2 separate regions of the Homo sapiens genome follow, and region 2 is linked to region 1. The links come from fine-mapping of genetic effects on plasma protein levels. Region 1 holds a variant in brackets. A gene starts in the other region. All regions are shown on their reverse strands.

The links. A credible set is the group of variants that fine-mapping cannot tell apart. PIP is the chance, under the fine-mapping model, that this variant and not a neighbour inherited with it causes the effect. Protein levels are from antibody-based Olink assays in UK Biobank. Linkage for the fine-mapping came from a reference panel and not from the study's own genotypes, which makes the PIPs less certain.
Region 2: AGRP starts here. The variant in region 1 is the best candidate, but not a certain one, in a credible set for the plasma level of the AGRP protein (UK Biobank, PIP 0.83).

What each region holds. Positions count from the first base shown.
Region 1 is chr11:116,776,502-116,784,501 of GRCh38, reverse strand. It overlaps ZPR1 (ZPR1 zinc finger), which reads left to right. Exons shown (of 14, transcript NM_003904.5): 9 at 54-124; 10 at 883-972; 11 at 1,473-1,583; 12 at 2,258-2,344; 13 at 4,665-4,730; 14 at 5,443-8,000. The coding sequence ends at 5,577. Among named protein-coding and RNA genes, the nearest start is that of BUD13-DT, 7.0 kb to the right of the region's middle. The variant C/G (reference allele first, on the strand shown) is at 6,301.
Region 2 is chr16:67,480,229-67,492,181 of GRCh38, reverse strand. AGRP (agouti related neuropeptide) reads left to right here and starts at 8,635. Exons shown (of 4, transcript NM_001138.2): 1 at 8,635-8,665; 2 at 8,781-8,913; 3 at 9,072-9,157; 4 at 9,364-9,611. The coding sequence starts at 8,784. The coding sequence ends at 9,546. It overlaps ATP6V0D1 (ATPase H+ transporting V0 subunit d1), which reads left to right and starts at 11,025. Exons shown (of 8, transcript NM_004691.5): 1 at 11,025-11,225. The coding sequence starts at 11,096. It overlaps ATP6V0D1-DT (ATP6V0D1 divergent transcript), which reads right to left and starts at 10,788. Exons shown (of 4, transcript NR_184227.1): 1 at 10,663-10,788; 2 at 7,854-8,072; 3 at 61-157. RefSeq lists enhancers at 3,383-3,462, 11,025-11,074, 11,235-11,474 and a silencer at 10,745-10,914.

The sequences.
Region 1 (8,000 bases):
CAGATGGTGGTCTTGTTCGCCTGGAAGTAGATTTCCTTAACTCCGTTTTCCAGAAATCCCTCACTTTAAGGAGGTTATCATCATGGCTACCAACTGCGAGAACTGTGGGCATCGGACCAATGAGGTGGGTGGGCGCCATTATTTGGGAAGAAGACTAGCTTAAGGGTAACCCCCTTTTAACTATCATTCTTCCTAAGTACTTCAGTACTCGGGGGCAGGGGGTGTAGAGTAGCTTGGGTCTTTTTCTTAGGTCTAGTGCAGGGTGATGAGCCCTTGAAGGAATGGGAATTAGCCTAGAGAAGAAAAGTTAGAGATTCTATAACTTGTTTAAGACATATTAAAGGTTGATGATATGGAAGAGAGAAGTCTTTTGACCCACTCCTCAGAGGTGTGGAAGTTCAGGGAGGCAGACTTTGACTTCACAATGAAGAACTCAATAGAGCTGTCTGAAAATAGAATGAGCTGCCTTAGAGAATTATAAATTCCCTTCCCCTGAGTGTATCTGAGTATAAGCTAATTAAATTCTTTAACCAGAATATTATAAAGGAGACCCACACATTGGATGCAGTGGATGAAAGGACTGCAATAAATGCTTAAAAGTCTCTTTCAACCCCAAAAGTCTTTTTTTTTTTTTTTTTTTTAAGGTAAATTCAGAGTTTATTGGCAATTTGGGATAAGTTTTGGCACGTTACCAGGGTTGGGCACTGTTCCTGGCCAGCTCTTGGTGTTTTTGGTTTGGGCGACTGCTGTTTAGAAGGCTCTTTCTTTGGTAGCTATTAATGGCCCTAACTGATTGGATGTCCAAGCCTACACTCCAGGTCTCCTGGGTACCAAGTGAGGCTCAGGTCTTCTCTCTGTTGCTCCTGACTGTTATCGATGCAGGTGAAATCTGGAGGAGCAGTAGAACCCTTGGGCACCAGGATCACCCTCCACATCACAGATGCCTCAGATATGACCAGAGACCTCCTCAAGGTAACAGTCTGCTTGGGAAAGTCACTGTTGTCCTCATAAGTTAGATAAACTGTCTCTATCTAGGGGAAGTTGTCTTTTAGAAATAATGTTCAGGGACATGAGGTATCTCCTACTTCCCTGGCTTTGAGGACCCCTGAGCAGAGGGAGTTAATCTAAGATTGGAATTGCAGGTTTAGAAGGTGACCCTGTTAGCTCTTTCTGATGACCTGGTAGCTTTTTGGCCTCCAGTGTCTATCTGGGTCCTCTTCTCTGTCTGTCCCCTAGTGACAGGATACCTGACAGCTCGAAGCTATGACTGAGTTTCCCTTTATTAAGTTGGATCTATTCCCGTGGTTCAGATGGACAGGAGTGAGTCTCAAGCTTTAACAAGGGAGTCAGAGAAAACTGAGACAGCTGCCCTTGTCCGCAGTCTATCACTGCTGGTATTAATTGGGCAGGAGGCCTCTGGTTGGCTTTCTTTGCTTCTGACTTAAAGCTTAAACTGACCTCTCATTTCACAGTCTGAGACTTGCAGTGTGGAAATCCCAGAGCTAGAATTTGAACTGGGAATGGCAGTCCTCGGGGGCAAGTTCACCACACTGGAAGGGCTGCTGAAAGACATCCGGGAACTGGTGAGTCACTTGAGTAGTGTGTAAACCACCTTTGAGCAATTTGGCTGTGTGAAGAGGGACTGGAAGACTTCAGACATCCTAATTTTCGGTGCTGGTAACTGTGGGTTTCTTTGCCTTAAAGCTGGTTTAAGAGACTTAAATATTACTTTGGATGGTGAAGACAAGTTTATGGGAAATGTTGAATGGAAATTCCAGGCCTAACTTTGGGACTTTATAGTTATTTTGTGGTCTTGGACAAGTCATTTATTTTACTGTAAAGTTAGGGGATGAGGGTCCTTCTAGCACCTAAAACTTCCCAACATAAAAAACATACATGTATGGGTTGACTTAGCCCAAATGTTTATCTCCTTGATGAATTATTTCACTTGATTCTCTGTTGGGCATTTTGTATTTGTAAATTGTACTTTTTCTTTGCATTTCTTCTCCAAATTAGTATCAGAGATCATATTCTAAGAACATGTTTCGATTTTGTTTTACATTGCCAGTTTTGTTATCTTGGCACATTATCCCATAGACTCCTAGGAGTGACTGCCTTGGTCAGAAAGGTGGTGTGGGCTAAATGGAAACCAAGTTTCCCTGACAGGGCACCCACTGTCACCCCCTGCCTAGTTTATGGTCAGGCCTAACAAATATAAAGCCAGTATTCACATAGTTTGGATTATCATTTATTGCAGGTGACCAAAAATCCTTTCACACTGGGCGACAGTTCCAATCCTGGACAGACGGAGAGACTACAGGAGTTTAGCCAGAAGATGGACCAGGTAAGAGGTCACTGGCCAGTCAGTACTTAGAATCCTGGGGCTCCAGTGAACAGGAGGCTGCATGCTCATGTCTTGCCACTTTTTGAACATCTAACCATCATGTTGGGGATTCTTCTTCTGGTTTTCTTTTCTTTTTTTTTTTTTTGGAGACAGAGTCTCGTTCTGTTGCCCAGGCTGGAGTGCAGTGGCGTGATCTCGGCTCACTGCAACCTCTGCCTCCCGGGTTCATGCGATTCTGCTGCCTCAGCCTCCCGAGTAGCTGGGATTACAGGCGCACACCACCACGCCTGGCTAATTTTTTGTATTTTTAGTAGAGACAGGGTTTCACTATGTTGGCCAGACTGGTCTCGAACTCCTGACCTCGTGATCTGCCTGCCTGGGCTTCCCAAAGTGCTGGGATTACAGGCGTGAGCCACCGCACCTGGCCCTCTTCTGGTTTTCTATATTCCACGTCTTCTTTCTTGTTTTTCTCCCTTATTTTGTTAGAGCATCTTCTCCAGTAGCTTCCTGGGAAAAAGTGCATGGGAAATAAAATTTCTGGGACCTTCCACATCTGAACATGTCTTTATTCTGTTATCACACTAGAGTGATTATTGGCTGGGAATACGATTCTAGGATAGAAATAATTTTTTATCAGAATTTCGAAGACTGCACTATGGTCTTCCAGTTTGGTAAAGACATTGTACTATAGTCTTCCACTTTGGCTATTGAGAAGTCTGAAGCCATTTGATTCCTGGTCTTTTATATGTGACCTAGTCTTGTGATCTCTTCGTTTCCTTTGATGTGAAATTTCAGGGTGTGCCTTGGTGTGGGTCAGTTTTCATCCACTGGGCTAAGCACTTGGTAGATGTATTTTTTCAGTCTGGAAAACTCATGTGGTTCAGTTCTAGGAAGCTTTCATGAATTATTCTATTGAAGATTATCTTTTTTCTGATTTTTTTTTTCTGTTCTTTCTGAAAACTCCTGGGTTTTAGATATTAGACTTACTTGTCTGGTCTTCTATAATTTACTCTTTTTTTGGTCCTATTTTTGGTTTCTTGGTTTTTTTGTTCTTCTTTGGGAGATTCCCTCAACTTTATTTTCCAACCCTTCAATTGAGGTTTTCATTTCCACTAAAACTTTTATTTTCCAAGGAGCTTTTTAAAAAATAGCATCCTGTCTTAAGGATGTAGTATTTTTTCTTCTTGAGGATTATTATTTTTTAAATTTTTTCAGCATGCAGTTTATATAGCACTTATTGATACTGATGTTGGATCTTTTTTGACATTTTATTCTCCTTGCATCCTTTTTTTCCCCATTTGATTTCCCATCTTTCAGTGTTAAGGGCTTTGCTCAGATGTCTGATAATCATTGATTGTCTTCTTACAAGTAGCGGGCTAAAGACCTGAGTAGGGGGTGAGCCTTGTTGACATGGGGCTTATTACAGGGGAATTTAACTTAGCTGTTTTGCTGAGGTGGCCTCCAATGCCAGAATTGTTAGGTCTTTCCTCTTGGGCTAGTCAGACAAAGAGGCTATGCCTGCCAGACAAGAACCAACCCAATTTATATTACAGAATCCTCCAAAGTTTTAAGAATTGGTGAAATTAGGTAGCTCTGAAAGTAGAGGGGAAAGGATCTAAAATAAGGACTGTTAGAAAAGCCAACATCAGCAAGCTGTGGACCAGGGGGTGCTGGCCCAGTTGAAGGTAGAGGGAAAGGACTCAAGAACAAGGAGGTTAAATGACTGTGGCTGCTCCATTTCCTGGCCTGAGGGTAAAGGCTTGGCTGGCAGTGTTCTGAGAGCTGTGGGAAGGGGGCTGGGGTGTGTATGTATTCTGTTTCCCATAAGCTTACATTCATTTAACCTACTTGTTCTTGATTCCTTTCCCTCTACCTTCAACTGGGCCAGCACCCCCTAGTCCACAGCTTGCTGATGTTGGCTTTTCTAACAGTCCTTATTTTAGAACCTTTCCCCTCTACTTTCAGAGCTACCTAATTTCACCAATTCTTAAAACTTTTGGGGATTCTGTAATATAAATTGGGTTGGTTCTTGTCTGGCAGGCATAGCCTCTTTTTTTAAAAATTTTTCTTTACTTTCATTTATTTCATTTCTTTTTTTATTTATATATATATTTATTATACTTAAGTTCTAGGGTACATGTGCACAACGTGCAGGTTTGTTACATATGTATACATGTGCCATGTTGGTGTGCTGTACCCATTAACTAGTCATTTACATTAGGTATATCTCCTAATGCTATCCCTCCCCCCTCCCCCGACATAGCCTCTTTTTACCAGGGGTTATGTAAAATTTACTTGCTGTGTTCTCTCTCTCCTTTAGATCATCGAAGGTAACATGAAGGCCCACTTTATTATGGATGATCCAGCAGGAAACAGTTACTTGCAGGTATAGTAGACCTTCCCTGATGTTTCATAGAGATACATTTTCTGATCTTCCTTGAATATGTATCATTTCCCTAGAAACTGAAAGACTTGATTCTAAATGGACTGCTTTTTACCAAGGAGGCAGAAGTTAGAAGATACATAAGGGAGAAAAGAGGGGGGTGTGGGAGGGGATTTTTTTTTTAAGTGTATGTAAAGAAGGAAAAAAAAAGGATACTCTGAGGCCCCTTTTTTTTCTGTAGTCAAGCTCTTGTCCCAGTTCTGGAGTTTTCATTTTGCAAATCTGATTATGGATTGAGGAGAAATGGTACCTTGTCCGGAGGCCAAGATAGGAAACTGATAGGCTTTAAGTTGACTGAGGAGAGAGTCTGGTGATTGATGTACCTTTACCATTTATTGGATACTTACCATGGGTCAGGCAAAACTCTTCTAAGTTCTTTCCAAGATTAAGACCATTTGTCATACTTTTCATAAGAAGGTGCAGATATAACAAAATAGGTGGATTGTTCCCTGATTCTGGGGCTGGGGTCTTCTACCCCTGGCCCATGTGGGCTCTGTTGCTACCCACTAGTTCAGTCTAGCCATGGGAAATTGGAGGCCAATAAAAAGAAAAAAACCCAAAACTCATTCTGTTCTTGGGAAGGTGGGAATTGGAAGCTGCCTGCAGAGAGGGGGAGTGGCACAGCGGCACTGATTGTCTCTCCTTGACCTTGCAGAATGTGTATGCGCCTGAAGATGATCCTGAGATGAAGGTGGAGCGTTACAAGCGCACCTTTGACCAAAATGAGGAGCTAGGGCTCAATGACATGAAGACAGAGGGCTATGAGGCAGGCCTGGCTCCGCAACGGTAGCAGTGGGTGGCTCAAGGGCCAGCCTCCAGCGCTGCTCTTTCTGTAGGTTATTTATTAGTATTGGATGAAGGCGAAGGCTGGGAGTGTCTTTCCCACCAGCCCTTGCCCATGGTGGGGAGGACATCTGGTCTGAGTCAGAGATCTGTGCACACTTTCTAAACAGCTTGTGATGCAAGTGTGAGCCTATTGTGTTACTTGACCTTATTTTGGAAGTTTTGAATTGGCCTAGGAGGAAACCCAGAAATGAACCAGGGGTATGTCATCACTTTTTTCATATCAAGTCCTCACCCTCCTTCCACATAATGCTCTATCCTCTAAGGTTGGAACTCTGAAGTTGGAGAAGGTGGAATAAAGTTACACCTGGAGTTTGTTGTTGGTTTTGAGTATATAAAATACTGACTTTGAACAGGAAAGGAGTCTCCTGAGGGGAGACCGAGTCCAGCACAAGTGAAGGAGTTACCATTGAAATGATGACTTTCAAACAGCACTGGCCTCTGTATTGACCCTATCCTTGTTTGATATCATGCTGTTAGAATTCAGCCTCCTAAAGAAAATTTTCCCGTGTATCTACTGTAATTTGGGGATTGCAGCTGGCATTTAATTCATTCCTTCAGCAGATGCTTGCTTATCTACTTTATGCCAAGCACACCACAGAACAGAGGACAAAATAAATCTCTTTCATGGAACTTGAAGTCTAGTGGGGAAAAATGACAATAAACAGAT[C/G]AGGAAAACAGTACATCAGATGGTGATTAGTGTCATGGAGGAATGTAAAGCAGGGAATGGGGCTGGGTTGTGCAAGGAAATGGGGAGTAGGGAAGATCTTCTGAACAAGAAGGTGATAATTTGACATTTGGGCAAAGCTGAGGAGGAGGTCAGGGAGTGAGCTGTGTGGGTATCTGGGGGAAGAGATTTCCTGGCAGAGGGAACTGCAAATGCTAGAGCTGTGAGGTTAGAGCCAGTGGGGGTACCTGATCAGTTAGCCCTACTCTCAGTTAGAAATGTTGAAACACATTCATCCAGAGAGAAAGGAGGCTCTCTGCAGTTCTTCTGAAAGTTAAGGACCAGTGAACACTCTGCTGCTTGGGCCCTGGACTTCCCAGCCAGTGTTCTTTGCACTGTAGTCTCCTGCCTCTCATAAACAAAAGGTGACTCCTGTGGTGCAGACTGCAGGGTATTTGTTCAATAAAGACCAGTTCATTGATTAAGATGTTATCACAAACCTTATTGCTTTGTGTTGCAAACTTTTTTTTTTTTTTTTTTTGGTAGAGACAGAGTCTCGCGCTGTTGCCCAGGCTGGAGTGCAGTGGTGTGATCTTGGCTTATTGCAACCTTTGCCTCCCGGGTTTAAGCAATTCTGCCTCAGCCTCCCGAGTAGCGGGGACTACAGGCGCACGCCGCCACACCCAGCTAATTTCTTTTGTATTTTAGTAGAGACGGGGTTTCACCGTGTTGCCCAGGCTGGTCTCGAACTCCTGAGCTCAGGCAATCCGCCAGCCTTGGCCTCCCAAAGTGCTAGGATTACAGGCGTGAGCTACCGCGTCCGGCTGTGTTGCAAACTTAACTCTGAAGAATGAGTTAGAGATGATTTAGCAATCAGACATCTACTCTCGTTGCTCTGTTAAACTACTCTCAAAGGTCACAAGTGATTTTCCACTTGGAAAGTGTTATCTATTTCTGTCACATTTGATAGTGGACCATCTCTTCTTAACCCTTCTTTTGGCTCTCGAGATACTGTACCCTTGGTTTTCCCTTCACTTTGAATATTTCTTATTTGGACACTTTGCCTCCTCCCCTCTTACTAAATTTGTTTCTGAGAGTTCTGCTTTCAGACATCTCTCCATATCAGATTCTTTGGCATCTTACTATCATGTGGGACTAACTTCCATACCTGTATCTCTAATTTCTGTAAGTGAGGGCGAGAGTAAGGTGTTTGGAGACTCAGGTTAGCAAATGACTCATTCAAACTATAAAGCTTCAGTACTTTGGGCAAACTTCTCACAGGCAACTATTCTACCCTAAGAGATTATCTCTAGGTATGTTTCCAGCTGACTTGGGAATCTAAGTTTACCAGACAACCCTCTGATCTATCATTTGGTCTCTTAAGTAGACTTCCCCATAGTGTAGGTGTGCTCTGTTAAGATAAACTGCAGTATCAGGTTCATTTTCCATTGTGAAGGAAAAAAAATGGCACTCTGGCTTATTACTGAATCTCTTGTGAGTTTGGTTGGTGTGAGGCAATCTCCCAGAATCCACCCAGTTCCTAGGAAATGATGACCTGAGTTTCTGAACTTGAAGACTGAGGACCAGGTGCCAGACTGGGATAACCCAGCTAAGGTACTTCCTGCCCTTTGATGACAAGGCATTCTTCAGTTTCATACCCTTCTCTTGAATTATCTTTCAGCTCCTTTCTCATTTCATAAAGT
Region 2 (11,953 bases), not on the chromosome of region 1:
TCCAGCCTGGGCAACAGAGGGAGACTCCGTCTCAAAAAAAAAAAAAAAAAAAGGTCTCACCTTCAAAGACGGTTTCCTTTGCCAACACCAAGGAGTAGGCTCCAGCCTGGGTTGCTGAGAGGACATGGGAGGACTCCTGGGACTTCTTCAGCTGTTACTTGGTTCCCAGGGAGAAAAAAAGCGAGGACAGAAGTGAGCAGAATCCCTTGAGACTAGAACCAGGAAGCTAAGGGTGTGGGACAGTGAGGGTTGGGGGCTGTGCTGATGGAAACTTCAGGGCCTGATAGGATTCCTGTCATGAACAACTCTGCAAAAGCCACACTGAAGTTACCCCCTATCTTCCTTCTCTTTAGGAAGTAACTTCCTCTTCTCTCCACCTTTAGGAACCCCACCTACAGACCGTCTCCTCCAGGAAACCTAGCAGTGCTGCAGGAGGAAGGAACTCTTTACTTCTGGTCTCAAGGCACTTCAGGCTTGAACCACCATGAAGGCAGAAATTCCATCCAGTTACCCTGGAAGTGGGAAACCGACAACCTGCATGGCATTTTTTGAAGCTAGACATGTAAACATCATTTAAAAGTTCTGTTTTCTTGGCTCACGCCTGTAACCCCAGCACTTTGGGAGGTCAAGGCAGGCAGATCATGAGGTCAGGAGATTGAGACCATCCTGGCTAACACGGTGAAACCCTGTCTCTACTAAAAATTCAAAAAATTAGCCGGGTGTGGTGGTGGGCGCCTGTAGAACAGCTACTCGGGAGGCTGAGGCAGGAGAATGGCGTGAACCTGGGAGACAGAGCTTGCAGTGAGCCGAGATCGCACCACTGCACTCCAGCCTGGGCGACAGAGTGAGACTCCGTCTCAAAAAAAAAAAAAAAAACTTCTGTTTTCTCTCTTTTCTTTAAAAACCTGAAGCTCTTAGCTGGGTGTGGTGGCACATGCCTGTAATCCCAGCTACTCGGGAGACTGAGGCAGGAGAATTGCCTGAACCCAGGAGGTGGAGGTTGCAGTGAGCCAAGATCACGCCATTGTGCTCCAGCCTGGGCAACAGAGCGAGATTCCATCTTAAAAAAAAAAAAAAGTCTGAAGCTCTGGCAAACCTGGGCCTACATCTCTGCCTGCCATCAATGGCTTCTCCCTTCAGGCCAAACTCACACTCTTCAAACTGTTATTAAAATACCACAGGTTTGGTCTAGGTCATGCTGCTCACCACACAGAAAGCCAATCACTGAGACAATTATTGCCAAGGAAGAAGGCTTTAATCGGGTGATGCAGGTGAGAAGACGGGAGATCGGTCTCAAATCCATCTCCCTGATGGACTAAAATTAGGAGTTTATATAGCAGGGAAGAAATGTAATTGTGTGTGGGAAAACAAATGCAAGGGGTAAGGAAGCAAATCATGATGAATGAGGGCCCTTGAGTCTCATTGTCTGGATGGGATGATCTGGTGGGTTTCAGTTCTTTGATACTTTTTGAGAGGACTGGGGATCCTTTCCTGAGAGGGGAACTCAGATAAAACAAATGTAAGTTTCAAGCTTTAGGATCAGAAGGGTTGATTTCTATGTTTATCCAAAAAAGCTGTCTATGGGACTATTGGGTTGGTTTCAAAACTTCCCCAATATTGAGTCAGAGTGTGGTCATTGTTAATGTTGAAATACAGAACTAATCTTTTGTTTCCGAAAAAAAGTATGACAGGCCGGGCATGGTAGCTCATGGCTGTAATCCTACCACTTTGAGAGGCCGAGGCAGGTGGATCACCTGAAGTCACCTGAAGTTCAAGACCAGCCTGGCCAACGTGGTGAAACCCCGTCTACACTAAAAATACAAAAATTAGCTGGGTGTGGTGACACACGCCTGTAATCCCAGCTACCTGGGAGGCTGAGGCAGGAGAACTGCTTGAACCCAGGAGGGGTTGCAGTGAGCTGAGACTGTGCCACTGCACTCCACCTGGGCGACAGAGCCAGACTTCATCTCAAAAAAAAAAAAAAGTATGAAAATAAAAGAGAGGCCAAAGGGCCATGTGCTTCAGGGAAGATGAGAAATGGCATAATTGTGTATGTATGTGTGTGTGTGTGTGTGTGTGTGTGTGTGTGTGTGTGTGTGTGTGTAATTGAAGAAATATTCTTACGTATTTATTATTCAAAGTCAATCTGTGCTGAAAAATACAACTCCAGGTGTCATTATTTCTGAGCATAGTGACCAGGGGGTCATTACAGGGTCAGACTCCCCAGTATGACTCTCAGCTCTACCGCTTGCAAGCTATTGACCTCAGACAAGACTGTGACAATATCCAGATGCCTCTGTAGTTTAAACTTCTCTGGACTGCTCAAATATAGCCCGACTGCTATCTTAGCAAGAAAACACCCTGTACACGTGGCTTTCAAGGCTGTACTAAAGAAAACATGAAATCCCATACCCCAAATTATTCTTTCTGGGATGAGAATGTGCCCAAAGTCAATACTAGCCCAAGCCAAAAGCCAAATCTGGCTCCCATGGATAGGTTTCTGGCCCTGACTTTGGCAGATGGTGCTGGCCCATGTAACCTACTCTACCCCAAAGGCCACAGCAGGGGGAAGGCTCTGGAGGTCAGAACTTCTGTGAGAGTCACAGGCTGACCTTGGGGATGCTCACAGCCTGGGAGAGCTCAGCTTAGGTCAAGTGAGGACCATCAGACCCTGTCCAGATCAGAGTAGCTCACTGAATTCTCCAGCCACAGCCTTCAGCAGTAGGTGCCAGCAGGATTTTCAAAACCAGGACCAGGGAATTTGGAGACAAAGGTGACTTTCTCCTATAGGATGCTGAGGGAGGAGAAAAGGAATAAAGCAGTTGGGCAGACAGCTATGGCTAGTCCTTGGTAAAATTCTTTTGAAAAATCAAAGCTACAGGCACAGATAGAGCAGCCTGGGGAAAAATCAAGCTGCAGCTGCACAGATAAGGGAGCAAGGCCCAGGATAGAGGCCTTTGTTCTTTGCATAATCAGCAGGCTCCCAGGAAAATGTTTCCTCCCCTTTTCAGGCATGCAAATGGTGAGCTCTGTGGGAACTTGCACAGGGAGGGGGATGGGGAGACTTACCTAAAACATACCTGCAACTACAGAGACAAGAGAAGCTACATATGCTTTCCTAAAGACATGCCCACAGCTGCACAGTTAACAGTAGTTACACAGATAGGGGAAGTTACACAAATAGCTACAGAGATGAGGGAAGTTTCTTTCTTTCTTTTTCTTTTTTTTTTTTGAGACGGAGTCTCGCTCTGTCACCCAGGCTGGAGTGCAGTGATGCAATCTCGGCTCACCGCAACCCTCCGCCTCCAGGGTTCAAGCAATTCTCCTGCCTCAGCCTCCTGAGTAGCTGGAATTACAGGCACGTGCCACCGTGCCTGGCTAATTTTTGTATTTTTAGTAGAGATGGAGTTTCACCATGTTGGTCAGGCTGGTCTCGAACTCCTGACCTGACCTTGTGATCCACCCGCCTCGGCCTCCCAAAGTGCTGGGATTACAGGCGGGAGCCACAGCGTCCAGCCAGACACTCCATTATTTTTTGAGCCACTAATAAAGGAAAAGAAAAAATGTTTTCATTGAGACATAATATCCAATAAAAAATACAATATATATATATATTTTGAGATGGAGTCTTACTCTGTCACCCAGGCTGGAGTGCAGTGGCACAATCTTGGCTGACTGCAACCTCCGCCTCCTGGGTTCAAGTGATTCTCCTGCCTGAACCTCCTGAGTAGCTGGGACTACAGGCACACACCACCACATCTGGCTAATTTTTTATTTTTAGTGGAGACGAGGTTTTGCCATATTGGCCAGGCTGGTCTCGAACTCCTGATCTCAGGTGATCTGCCCACTTTGGCCTCCCAAAGTGCTGGGATTACAGGTGTGAGCCACTGCACTTGGCAAAATACACAAGTCTTAAATGTGCAGCTTGATGAAATTTTACATACTTATATACCTGCGTGACCACCACTGAGATCAAGATACAAAACCTTTCCAACACCTCACATGTTTTCCTCATTTCCCCCCTCAGTCAATAATTTCCCACCCTCCCAGAGTTAACCGCTGTTGTGTTTTATCACCATTTATTATAATTTTGCTTGGGTCTGAATGTCATAGGGCTGGATTCATTCCATCCTCACTCTTCTGCAGCATGCTTCTTTCATTCAACCTTATGTCTGTGCAATTCATTCATGTTGCAGTGTGTAGCAGTAGTTTATTCTCTTGTCATTGCTGTATAGTTGTCAATTATATAAACATACTTTTGTTTGTTTGTTTGAGATAGGGTCTCACTCTGTCACCCATGCTGGAGTGCAGTGGTGCAATCTTGGTTCACTGCAACCTCTGCCTCCTGGATTCAAGTGATCCTCCCACCTCAGCCTCTCGAGAAGCTGGGACTACAGGCTTGCGCCACCATGTCTAGCTAATTTTTGTAATTTTTGAAGAGACAGGGTTTTGTCATGTTGCTCAGGCTGGTCTGGAACTCCTGAGCTCAAGTGATCCACTCGTCTCGGCCTTCCAAAGTGCCAGGATTACAGGTGTGAGCCACTGTGCCTGGCCCAATTATATCACTATAATGTTATTATCCATTTTGCTGTTGATGGATATTTGGATTGTTTCCAGTTTTCTTTCTTTTTTAAAATTTTTTATTTTTTTAAGACAAGGTCTCATGTGCATAAGCTGGAATGCAGTAGTGTGATCATGGCTCACTACAGCTTTAACCTCCTGGGATCAAGCGATCCTCCCCACCTCAGCCTCTGGAGTCACTGGGACCACTGATGTGCACCACTGTGTCTGGCTATTTTTAAATTTTTTTGTAGAGATTGGGTCTCTGTATGTTACCCAGGCTGGTCTCAAACTCCTGGGCTCAAGACAGTCTCCCACCTCGGCTTCCCAAAGTGGTGGGATTACAGGCATGAGCCACGGCACCAACTTTCTCTATCTTTTTGTTTTATTCCAACCCTCAAAGGATTGGATGATTCTGGAAACACCCTCACAGGCACACCTAGAAATAATATTTAACCAGATATCTGGGCATTCCTGGCCCAGTCAAGTTGACACACAAAATTAACAATCACAGATCCTCTCTAGCTCAGGGCTCAATACACCAGCCCGAGAGAACCCCCATCCATCTTCTCCTCTCCCTGAATGACTGAGGAGACCGTGCCTCTCCAGGCAACCTCTGCCTTAGGAAATCCTACAGATGATTCACAGGAAACACATGGCTGTGCTCTCTGGGGCAGGGGCAATGGGCTGGGTAGGGGTTTCAAAATCAACCCTGATTGACAGAGCCACGGGTGCTTGCAGTTTTTCCCTGCACCCCCCACCCTCTCCCCTGGACAAGGTGGGAACAGGGCCCTTGAAGGGGAGTACACTGCAGGAGGAAAAAGAAGAGAAGGGAGAGGGTTTGAGCACCCCTCTCTGTCCTCATGTGGTCTCTGGAACGAGCATGCACACTCTCCCCTTTCTCCTCCCTGCACAGAGTCCCTGTGTTCCGGGCCCACACCCTCACTTAGGAGGCTCTGCCTCCCCCAGGGTTTCCCAAATCCTCCTCCCAGAACATGCCACATATTTCTGAAGGTCCTTTTGCCAACAAGCATTGTCCTGGGAATATCAGGCTGGTTCCTTACCGTAAAATTACCCACATAGTGAAACTTTTTTTTTTTTGAGATGGAGTCTCACTCTGTTACCAGGCTGGAGTGTTACCAGGCTGGAGTGCAGTGGCACGATCTCAGCTAACTGCAACCTCCGCCTCCTGGGTCCCAGTTCAAGTAAATCTCCTGCCTCAGCCTCCCAAGTATCTAGGATCATAGGTGCGTGCCACCATGCCCAGCTAATTTTTGTATTTTTAGTAGAGATGGGGCTTCACCATGTTGGCCAGGCTGGTCTTGAACTCCTGACCTCATGATCTGCCCACCTTGGCCTCCCAAAATGCTGGGATTACAGGCGTGAGCCACTGCATCCGGCTGTGAAACTTTTTTTTTTTTTTTTGAGAGAGTCTCGCTCAGTCACCCAGGCTGGAGTGCAGTGGCGCGATCTCGGCTCACCGCAAGCTCTGCCTCCTGGGTTCACACCATTCTCCTGCCTCAGCCTCCCAAGTAGCTGTGATTACAGGTGCCCGCTATGACGCCCGGCTAAATTTTTTTTTTTTTTGTATTTTTAGTAGAGATGGGGTTTTGCTGTGCTAGGCAGGATAGTCTCCATCTCCTGACCTTGTGATCTGCCCACCTCGGCCTCCCAAAGTGCTGGGATTACAGGCGTGAGCCACCGCACCTGGCCTTTTTTTTTTTTTTTTTTAATGGGGACTGGGTTTCGCCATGTTGCCCAGGCTGGCCTCGAATTCCTAGGCTCAAGTGATCTGCCTGCCTCAGCCTCCCAAAGTGCTGGGATTATAGGCGTGAGCCACCACCACCATGGCTCACTGCAGCCTCAATCTCCTGGGCCGAAGCTATCCTCCTCCCTGTCTCCTGAGTAGCTGGGACTACAGGTGTGCATCACCACATTCAGCTAATTAAATTTTTTTTTTTTGGTAGAGACAGAGTCTCACTATGTTGCCACTCCTGGGCTCAAGAAGGTGTGAATCACTACACCTGGCCGTTTTTTTTTTTTTGTTTAGTTTTGTTTTTGTTTTTTGAGACGGCAACTTGCTTTGTCGCCCAGGCTGGAGTGCAGTAGCGCGATCACAGCTCATTGCATTTTGGCGCTGGGTTTTCTTGATATCTCCCCCACTGGACCTGACCGGGGCATGGGCTGCCCTGTGAGTGCCTCAGCCCTCGTCCATCACTGCCCATGGGGCTGATACACCTGTGTGCACACACTCAGGTGAAGACAGCTGCTGCCCGTAGGTGAGGTAAGACACTGAGCACCTGTGTGGGAGGAGATCTTCCACTCCCACTCTGTCCACACCAGACCATGAAGAGCTCTCCATAGCATGGGTGCTGACCAGGCCCAGCCTGGGTGACAGAGTGAGACCCTGACTCAAAGAAAAAGACATAATGAGGTGTGATTTTAATTTCTTGGATGTCCCAGTATATATAAATGTTGGGAGTATGGATTGCTTCATTTCATTTTAAATAGCATTTTTTTTTTAAGATGGAGTCTCACTCTGTCACCCAGGTTGGAGTGCAGTGGTGCGATCTCTGCTCACTGCAGTCTCTGCCTCCCGTGTTACAAGTGATTCTCCTGCCTCAGCCTCCCGGGTAGGTGGGATTACAGGCATGTGCCACCATGCCTGAATAACTTTTGTATTTTTAGTAGAGATAGGGTTTCACCATATTGGCCAAGCTGGTTTGAACTCCTGACCTCCAGTGATCCGCCCACCTTGGCCTCCCAAAATGCTGGGATTACAGGCGTGAGCCACCGTGCCTGGCCACCCTTTATCTTCTTTTCTTTTTGAGACAGGATCTTGCTCTGTCGCTCAGCCTGGAGTGTGGTGATGCAGTCATAGCTCACTGCACTCTTGAATCCCTGTGCTCAAGCCATCCTCCCACCTCAGCCTCTACTACAGGCATGCACCACTACACCCAGCTATTTTTTTATTTTTTGTAGCAACGGGGTCTCACCATGATACCCAGGCTGGTCTTAAACCCCTGGCCTTGTGATCCTCCCACCTTGGCCTCTCAAAATGCTGGAATTACAGGTGTGAGCCACCATACCTGGCCCCCTTCATCTTTTTTCCACTGCCTTGTGCCAACCCAGTTTGTGCACTGGGGCCTTGCGATCCTCTCAAAGCTGATTCAGCCTGCATTCCTTTCCCAGATGGACACGTGTGTGATAAACAGCTCTGCAGTGGGGTGAGGGAAGGCAGGGGCAGCAGGGTCCTGTATGTCCTGCCATCTCCACAAAAGGGCAGTCCTTACCCCAGCCTTGTGCTGATGAGACCAGGCATAGACAGTCCTGACGACACAGGGCGGAAGGGAGCAGCCATTAGTGCTAATGAGGCAGGCGGCCTGAAAGCTTTGTACTCTGCAGTGGCTCGCCCACCCAGGGAACAGTTCGTTCTGTTTCCTTGGCTTCCAGGAACCCTAGGCAGAAAGGGGTTTGGGGACAGGAGCAGGAGTGGGCGGTCTTGGAGAAACCTGGAGGGAGAAAGGGAGGGGAGGACCAGAAATGTAGTCAGGAGGGCCTAGGATTGGTTAGGTGGGCTTTTCCTTCCCCTTTCCCTCCAAAGAAACCCAGGTTCTGGTTCTGCACCTACCCCTGCCCAACAGTGGCCATTGGCCCATCACCCGCTCCAATGTCCTTGACCCGAATTCTTGGAAGCACAGGAAACAACATGCCACATAGGGGTTGAGTAAGCATCTCTGGGGCCACAAATTAAATTAAGCTTTCAGGGCCGCCTGCCTTGTTATTGCTAATGGTTCTAGCCCTGCTCAGCTCCTAGGTCCCTGTCCTGTGGAAATTTGTGGACCCTGGGCACCCTCTCTTGCTCCCAAATTTTAATCGGCTCCTGGAAACCTCACCCCAAATTGGAGATAGGCACTCCTCTTGTAGAACAAAAGGCTCAGGTTCAGGGAGTGAGGGCCTGAACTGTGCCCCCACCCTCCAGGAAGGGTCCTTCACGGCCTGGCTGCAGGGATCAGTCACGTGTGGCCCTTCATTAGGCCCTGCCATATAAGCCAAGGGCACGGGGTGGCCGGGAACTCTCTAGGCAAGAATCCCGGAGGCAGAGGTGAGTCCTCAGGTTGGGCAGGGACTCCTCCTCTCTGTGGGGTCTCTATCTGGGCACCTAGAGGGGACTCCAAGGATAAGGAGGGACTAAGTGGTACATCTTCCTGCTGAGCCAGGCCATGCTGACCGCAGCGGTGCTGAGCTGTGCCCTGCTGCTGGCACTGCCTGCCACGCGAGGAGCCCAGATGGGCTTGGCCCCCATGGAGGGCATCAGAAGGCCTGACCAGGCCCTGCTCCCAGAGCTCCCAGGTCAGTGTGAGCAAGGGTGGGACTGGGCGGGGCCTGAATACCCTCTGGCCACAAATAGTCTCCCCTGGCATAAACCCTCTTTCTCCCTTCCCAAACCCTCCCCTGGGAGGTGGGTGCTTTGTGCATGGGGGTTCCTGCCCTCACATCCTCTGCCCCAGGCCTGGGCCTGCGGGCCCCACTGAAGAAGACAACTGCAGAACAGGCAGAAGAGGATCTGTTGCAGGAGGCTCAGGCCTTGGCAGAGGTAACTGCTCAGGGAAAAGGGTAAGGTGGTGGCCCTTGGGAGGGGGCATTGGGTATTAGCTCCTCTCCCCAGCTCCAAACTCCCTCACCAGCGACGACACTACCGACCACCCCTTCCCATGCTCCACTGCCATCCTGCACAGGTTGGGACAGGTAAGATCCCTGGATCTGTCTTTAGAGGCCTGTGCTGGTTCCCCACCCCTGCAGGTACTAGACCTGCAGGACCGCGAGCCCCGCTCCTCACGTCGCTGCGTAAGGCTGCATGAGTCCTGCCTGGGACAGCAGGTGCCTTGCTGTGACCCATGTGCCACGTGCTACTGCCGCTTCTTCAATGCCTTCTGCTACTGCCGCAAGCTGGGTACTGCCATGAATCCCTGCAGCCGCACCTAGCTGGCCAACGTCAGGGTCGGGGCTAGGGTAGGGGCAAGGAAACTCGAATAAAGGATGGGACCAACCCCAAGGCTGTGGTTATTTCAAACGTGGCCGTCAAAGGAGGGAGGGTTCATGGAGGGGGTGGGAGTGTCACCAAGCCAAGAAACCACACATACTCTTATCCCAGGGCCTGGGCTACCCTATCATAGGAGGCACATACACGGGCGCTTTTAGGGGTCCTGGTGCCCCTGGGAAAAATAGAGAAGAGCCGCACTCCAGCTTTCGAAAATCTTGTACAGCAAGTGCGGGGAACGCAGGACGCAGCGTGGCACAGGGGCTATCACTCCTGGCTAACAAATAAGCCTTAGGCTCCAGGGCTTGCTGCTACTTCCACGCAAAGCCTGCCCCTCATCCTGTTACCAGAGGGAAGGCCAGGAGTGTGCGTTGTTCAGGTCCTTAGCGTTTCGAACAAAGAATTGAACAAAACCCAGAAAGTAACAAACGAATGACACACAGGAAGGAAGCAGACAGCTGGGATTTGTTAAAGCGAGAAAGCACTACGCAGGGTGGGAGTGGGCCTGAGCAAGAGGCTGAAGGGGCTCAGTTACAAAGTTTTCCGGGTTTTAAGTACTCCTTTTGCGGTCCCTGTCCGTTACCCCTTATCTGGATGAAGGGTTTGGTCCATGGCTAATTAATCCATTTATGCCTGAGGTTGCAATCTTTTTGAATTTTTGCAATCAGACCTTGGCCATGACCTTGAGCAGTAGGATATAAATAACTCCCATATGCTTAGCGTTCCAATAATGGAACACAAGGCATAAATGGGGCTAAGGTGAATTGGCGCCCTATGCAGATGAAGGGATGGCCCGTGCTTGGCCCGCAGCCAATCCAAGGCACTCTCCCTTTCAACTGAGACGTGGTGGAAGGGGGAGGGTTGTGGGGACAGTGGCCTTTGATCCTTTGTTACTTGGACATGGGGAGATGGGGTTTTTCTTTTTGGTTTAGCTTTAGTAAGCTCGCCTTAGTTGGCCTCCGGTTCCCTGCCCCCAGACCTTGGTGTTTTCCCTTGATTCAGCTTCAGAATTCAGCACGTATTGGCCTCAAGTTCCCCGCCTCCAGACCCTATTCTCCTACCTCAATCGGACCTCAGTTTCCCTCTGGGGAGGAGGCTGGCCCAGCAGTCTGGAAACTTTCCAAGCTTGAGAAGGGCTCGCTCCCTTCTTTACCCCGCCCGCCCTGCAGCGTCAAGTGCAGCAAACCGGGGAAAGCTAGAGAAGGCCCAGTCAAATCCCTGCGGCCACAGGCGCCACCAAGCGGCCGGCCTCAAACTTCCTCTTTTTAGCGCGCAGGCGCCGCAGGGCCAGCCCACGCCTGCACCGCGCTTCCGCGCAGCCACCCGGAAGCCGGGCACCGCTCAGAGCCACGCCCCCTTATGGTCACGTGAGGCGCTTGCGCGTCACCTGACGCACTTGACAGCCCGCTGAGGACGCAGCGTCAGCTGACCTGGGGAGTCGCGATTCGTGCCGGCCGGTCCTGGTTCTCCGGTCCCGCCGCTCCCGCAGCAGCCATGTCGTTCTTCCCGGAGCTTTACTTTAACGTGGACAATGGCTACTTGGAGGGACTGGTGCGCGGCCTGAAGGCCGGGGTGCTCAGCCAGGCCGACTACCTCAACCTGGTGCAGTGCGAGACGCTAGAGGGTGAGCCGGGGCCGCGAAAGGCGGGGATAGAGGCTGTCCGGGGCCTGAGGGTTCAGAGGTGTAGGCCGGGAAGCCGGAAGGGGGGGTCTTGAAGGGCCTGAGAGGCCTCTCTGGGAATCCTGGGGCTGATAGCGGACGCGCAGGAGCGGGATCTACCTCTAGCTGTGGCTCGGCGCGGGCCCAAACTCAAACAAGGCTTTAAGAACCGCAGTTGTTCGCCTCTGCTTGGGCCACCTTTTCTCTCGCTGTGCTCACCCTGCAGTTTGGGAGGAGGGGGTGTTTCGGGGGTAGTTGGTCGGTGCGAGGTGTGGCCATACAAACCTCTTTACCCTGACGTAGCCCGAGAGCTGTCGCGTAGCAACCCTTAGGGAAGCTAAGCGGAAAAGTCCCCCACCTCTTCCCCCTCCCCCCGCCAAGACACTAAGGTCTTTGGGATCATCGTGTCTTCGCGTTGGCCTGCGGGGTGAGCCTTCCTGGGGAATTGCTGAGCCAGTTTATCGAGGGTTTTCTCCCAACTCTGAACTGCTGGCTGGGCAGTATCTCCTGAAGGCAATGTTTGGGAGAACAAGGGTGGCCCTTGCAGGTCTGGAAGTTCATATACAAGTATTTGGCCAATTAATCCCACCCCCTCAGCGAGGGGGATGCCTGTTGGGACAGGGTTTCTGAGCACAAGAGTAATGAGAAACCGAGTTCCCCTTTCTTCTCAGCACACAGCTCCAGAGTGGCGT